Regions from separate parts of the Homo sapiens genome. Here region 1 is linked to region 2. Evidence: fine-mapped expression QTL. Tissue or cell type: testis. Region 2 holds a variant in brackets; the other region holds the start of a gene. All regions are shown on one strand. Distances are from middle to middle.

The links. PIP is the estimated chance that this variant, and not a neighbour inherited with it, causes the effect.
Region 1: ONECUT3 starts here. The variant in region 2 is fine-mapped to the expression of ONECUT3 in testis (GTEx, PIP above 0.99).

Annotation. Positions count from the first base shown.
Region 1 is chr19:1,752,390-1,755,139 of GRCh38, reverse strand. It overlaps ONECUT3 (one cut homeobox 3), which reads right to left and starts at 1,634. Exons shown (of 2, transcript NM_001080488.2): 1 at 286-1,634. The coding sequence starts at 1,477.
Region 2 is chr19:1,781,638-1,784,387 of GRCh38, reverse strand. ATP8B3 (ATPase phospholipid transporting 8B3) reads left to right here. Exons shown (of 29, transcript NM_138813.4): 29 at 1,118-2,313. The coding sequence ends at 1,360. Among named protein-coding and RNA genes, the nearest start is that of ATP8B3, 29 kb to the left of the region's middle. The variant T/C (reference allele first, on the strand shown) is at 1,589.

The DNA of each region.
Region 1 (2,750 bases), 29 kb after region 2:
CAGCAGTCTAACAAGGACTAGAGAACCCCTACGCGCTCCCGAAAGGGGCAGAAGCGGCGACCGGGGGGCGGGGAGGCGGCACAATCCCTTTCTCCCTTTTGGCAACGGTACAAACGGGCAGCGGCGCGGATCGCGGTCTAGCTTCCTGATAGGGGGTCCCGGGCTGCCGGGGCGCACGGGCGGGGCTTGGGGCGCTGGCCCCGGGCATCGGCCGCCGCCCCGCTAGGTGCTCGGGAGTCCAGAGCCGGCGCCCCCAGGGTCTGGCCCTGCGCGCCACGCTCCTACCTGCCAAGCGCAGCGCCGACATGCGCTGGAACTCTGGCTCCTGCAGCCACTTCCACATCCTGCGGAAGGTCTCGCGGCCGGATTTGAGCTTGCTCCACGGCTTGGGGTTGCGCAGCAGGTCGGAGAGCGTGCCCTGAGAGCGACACAGGATCCGCTGCGCGAAGATTGCCTGCGGGATGCTGTAGCGCTTCAGCTCCGCCGTGATGCGCTGCGCCACCTCCTTGGTGTTGATCTCCTCGGCCGCTGCGCCCGCGCTGGGGCCGCCGCCGCTCCCGCCGGGGCCGCCGCCTCCCCCGTGCGGCCCGTGCGCCCCGGCCGCCGCCAGCCCGCCCAGCGGCGCCAGCAGCCCCGCGGCGCTCCCGCTGCCCGCTCCGCCGCTGCCTGTGCCGCCGCCGCCTCCGGGCAGCCCGCGGGCCAGTGCGTCCTCCGCGCGTCCCAGCAGCGCGGCGTGCGGCTCGAAGGCGGCGGGCGGCAGCAGCTTGTCCCCAGCCAGGTGGCCTGGCGGGCCGTAGGCGGCCAGCGGCGGGGGTGGTGGCGGCGGCGGGGGCTGCGGGGCGCCGTGCAGCGCGGGCGGCAGCGCGTTGGGCAGCGGCGACAGCGGCGACCCCATGGCGGGCAGCTCCTTGCCGTAGGGTCCGTAGAGGTGGCCCACGGAGGCGAGCGCCGCCCGCTCGTCGCGCATGAGGGTGAAGCTGCCGCTCACGCTGGCCGCCAGACGCTGCGGCGGGGGTGGCGGGGGCGGCGCGGCCGCCGGGTGCGGGTGCGCGTGGGGATGGCCGCCGTGCGCCCCGGCCACGGCCGCGGCCGCCGCGTGCTGGTGGAACTTGTCGGCCACGGCCGCGAGCGGCGGCAGGTGCTGCAGGGGCGTGAGCGTCGTGTAGGTGCCGCCCAGGCCCGGCGCCTCGCAGGCCATGCCCATTGCCGGGTGCAGCGGGCCCGCCAGTTCCCCGCGGAAGTCCGCGCCGCCGCCCGCGCTGCCCGCGCCGCCCGCGCCCCCGGCGCCCCCACCGCCGCCGCCGCCGCCGCCGTCCAGCAGGCTCGCCATGCCGGCCACCAGGCCCGGGCGCCCGGGCGCCACCAGGCCGCGGTGCTGCGCCGCCGCCGAGCGCGCGTGGCCCGGGCTCAGCAGCTCGCCCGCCTGCGCGTGGGCCACGCTGTGCAGGCCCCCCAGGCTCTCCAGGCTCAGCTCCATGCTCGGCTGCCCTCCCGCCGCGCGCGCTCCTCAGCGCCGGCCCCTAGTGCTCAAGGCCGCTGCATGACTCCCGCCCGCTCCCCGGTGGCTGCGCGCGAGGCTGCCAGGCTGCGCGGCGCACGGCCCGGCCCGGCTGCGAGCGCGGCCACCAGGATGTGGCAGGGGAGCGGCCGCCGGCGCCCGGGCCCGGGTCTGACGTCAGCGCCCCCGCCCACCCGCTCCTGCCACCGCTGCCTCCCGCAGCCTCGCTCTCCGCCCGCCCCGGCCCCACTCGAGCACCAAGCAGGCCGAAGTCGGCCAGACTTGGGGCTTCGGCGTCCCTGGCCACTGCGCCCGCCCGCGCCCGCTGGGGCAGGCCGTACCCGGGGGACAGCGGGCGGGGGTCCGAGGACAGACTCTGCCCAGGTGGGGCTGGGGGCCTCGACCCAGAGTCTCCGATTTCGCGTCTCTGTGTGATTCTCTCCAGAGTCCCAGATGTGGCTTTCTGCCTGGCACCCCCAAGTCCATCTCCAGGGAGTTTCTGGGAGTGTGGCTGGACGGTCGCCTGTAATGTACGTGTCCCCCCCCCCCCCCGTTCCCTACAGACCCCCAGGAGCTAGATCCCCACTGCAAGCTCAGCTTCCCCCGACTCCCACTCACACCTACGGAGTCACAGCCCCCTTCCCACAACCTCTTTGTGGAGGAAGTGGGGGAAAAGGGAGGTCCTAAGGCTAGGTCAGGGCCTCCGTGCGCCCCAGGGGTCAGCCTCTGCCCATGTGTGGGCACCTGGGCCTCCGTTTCCCCAACTGTACAATGGGCTGCCCGGCCTCGGGGTTGCCAAAGGCCCCTTCTAATTGCAGGGCCTTTTTACAGTGCGGCCGCTGGAGGCACTGGAGCCTGGGGGTGACCACTAAGAGCCCCTGTCACCCTCCAGCCCACGGAGGCTGAGGCTGGATCCCCTGTCTTCTGAGACGTCGCTGGTGCAAACTCCTCTTTGTCCCTGGGGCTTCTCTTCAATGTGGGGGGAGGCAGGGGTCTCCTTTTTCTCAGCACCTGGAGACAGGTGAGCCCCAGGGGCCCCTGGGAACTGGGATAGATGGGGGAAGGGCTCCTATAATCAGAGAGACCCCCAGGGGACTAGATCCCGCCAGTGGGGTAAGGTCAGGGCTGCGGATCTGGAGGGGCCAGACCAGAATCTAGAGGATGCTCTGTCTTGTAGGCCAGAGGCTACGGTGCAGAGTCCAAAACCAGCCTCAGCCCCTTCCTGCTTCCCCGTTGCCTCTGCCCCCCCCAC
Region 2 (2,750 bases):
ATGTACCACCACGCCCAGCTAATTTTGTAGTTATTTTCTAGAGATGGAGACTCATTATGGTGCCCAGGCTGGTTCAAACTCCTGGGCTCACGCAATCCTCCTGCCTTGGCCTCATAACATGTTGGGATTTCAGGCATGAGCCACACTGTGCCTGGCTGACACCATCAGATTCTACCGTGAATGATCTAGAGCTTGGGGGTTGAGATGACGGAAACAACCTTGAAATGGTTTAGGCAAAAGGAGGAACTTAGAAATAAGAGTCTGTTGACAGATGAGTGGGTCAACACGGCACGCTCCATCTGTGCAATGAAACACGCCTGAGCCGTGAGAAGGAGTGAGGCTCTGACACAGGCCACAGCGTGGATGCACCTTGAGGACATGTGCTCAAGGCCAGGCGCAGCGGTTCACACCTGTAATCCCAGCACTTTGAGAGGCTGAAGCAGGTGGCTTGCTTGAGCCTGGGAGGTTGAGGCTGCAGTGAGCTATGATTTTTGCCACTGCACTCCTATCTGGGCAACAGAGCAAGACCCCACCTCAAAAAAAAGGGAGGGGACTTACTAGCCCACGTAACCAAAGCATGCATGGAAAAGCAAGTTGCAGCTGAGATGGGCCCCAGAATTGACTGGAATGGTGTACCTGCCCTGCCACCTCTGTTCTCCCTGCCCAGCTCCTGCCACCTTTACTGCACAGGCTGGGCACCTGGCTGTCCCAGGCTCACCTCTCCTGGATTTGCCACCAAAGGGCAGCCAAGGCACCTGGTGGCTGGTCCAGAGTCGGGGAAGGACTCTGATTGGCTGAGCCAGGGTTAAGTCCCAGGGAAGGACTCTGATTGGGTGGTCCCGAGTTAAGTCCCAGGGAATAACTCTGATTGGCTGATCCAGGGTTAGTTTCCAGGGCAAGGCCAATTAGTGGGTCTTGAAAAGCAAAGGACTAGAGTCCTCCTTAGAACTCAACACTGAGAGTCGAGGACTCTAATTGGCTCAACTTGGGTAGGGAAGAACGTAGCCAATCAATAGTGGCCAAGGGCTTTGAATCCTGCCTCTCCTACTTGGGGGACCTGAGAGCCATCAGCCAAGCATAGGAGTCTGCTTCCCCTGCTCTCCCCTTTGCTCTTCAGGAGGAGAAGGTGGAGGAGGGCCCCAGCGAGGAGATTTTCACCATGGAGCCCTTGCCTCATGTACACCGGGAGTCTCGTGCCCGCCGTTCCAGCTATGCTTTCTCCCACCGTGAGGGATATGCAAACCTCATCACTCAGGGCACAATTCTGCGGAGGGGACCAGGGGTCAGCAGTGACATAGCATCTGAATCCCTAGACCCATCTGATGAAGAGGCAGCTTCGAGCCCAAAAGAGTCACAGTGACACCTCAGGAAGATGTCCTTCCTGGGGAAGAAGAAGCACCAGCCACAGGGGCAGGTGTCCTCCCAGGAAGTACAGCTCCCCCCTACACCTAGCTCATCATTTTCTATGGATAGACAATCCGCTCTTCATCCAGAAAACCAACCTGCCCTCCCCAAATATGTGCTCACCAGCAGCAACAGGCTATCTGAGTCTTTCCAAGAGCAATTGCCAAGGGCACAGGAGAGGTCA[T/C]TGTCACCCAAGCAGAGGCCACCTTCTCCTGAGAAGTTGCTGTTGACCAAGGAGAGGTCACATTCTTTTCAGGAGAAATCACTGTTGCACAGAGAAAGCCAGCTGTCGTCATTTGAGAGCCAGCCACAGCCTCTGGGGAGCCAGTCATTTCTTTCAGGCCAGCTGACGTTGGAGAGCCAGCCAGACTCCTCGGAGGAGAAGTCAGCATTTTTGAAGCCCTCCACACCGTTCCGGAAGAGCTGGCAAAAGGAGCCTCACACCCCCAAGGAGGGGACGGTGCCACTTCCAGACAAGACCCACAAATCTCAGGTGGAGACTCTGCCACCAAGTCTGGAAGAATCGTCCACGTCCACGAGCGAGCAGCCTATGGAGGTGGAGCTGTGGCCCGCGGAGAAGCAGTCATCATCATCCATGGAGTGGCTGCTGGTGCCCGGGGAGGAGCAGCTATCCTTGCCCCCAGAGGAGCAGTCATTGCCCTCTGCGGAGGGGACCAGGGTTCAGCAGTGACGTAGCATCTGAATCCCTAGACCCATCTGATGAAGAGGCATCTTCGAGCCCAAAGGAGTCACGCTGGCATATCAGGAAGATGTCCTTCCTGGGAAGAAGAAGCTCCAGCCAGTTCTGCTGCAAGTCAACCAGCATGCAGGGGGCCTTCCTCTAAAGACAAGGACTCCACATGCTTTTCTTTTTCTAATAAACCAGGGTCCATCTGACCCCAGCGCTAATTCAGGCTCCCTCTTTCCCTACACTTTTTTTGTGATGGAATATTCCTTCCCGGTTTTTAAAATCAAAACACTGACCTCTAGTGGTCCAGCCGGGTATTTGCAGGGAAAACTTTCCTTCTTCATGCTGGGGTAAGATAATGTGGGTAAAGCTTCATTGCTCTCAAAAGTTGCTTATTAAAAGCTGTGGCTCCCCCGCTGCCTGACAGCTGGCCCCTCCCAAGAAAGTTTATAAATTCCAGTTCTTGTACCATCTAGCTTCTTCCTCTATCGGGAAGCCCTGGTTTCTCCCATTCAAATACACCTTCATTCACTGGGGCCTCCGTTCACTTTAGACTCCAGAAAGCAATGAGCAGTGATGTCACAGAAGCAGGTCCTGACAAGGTGTGCATCTTGGGGCTTGGTTGACTCAAAGGCGCCAAGCTTTTCCTTCTAAGGCG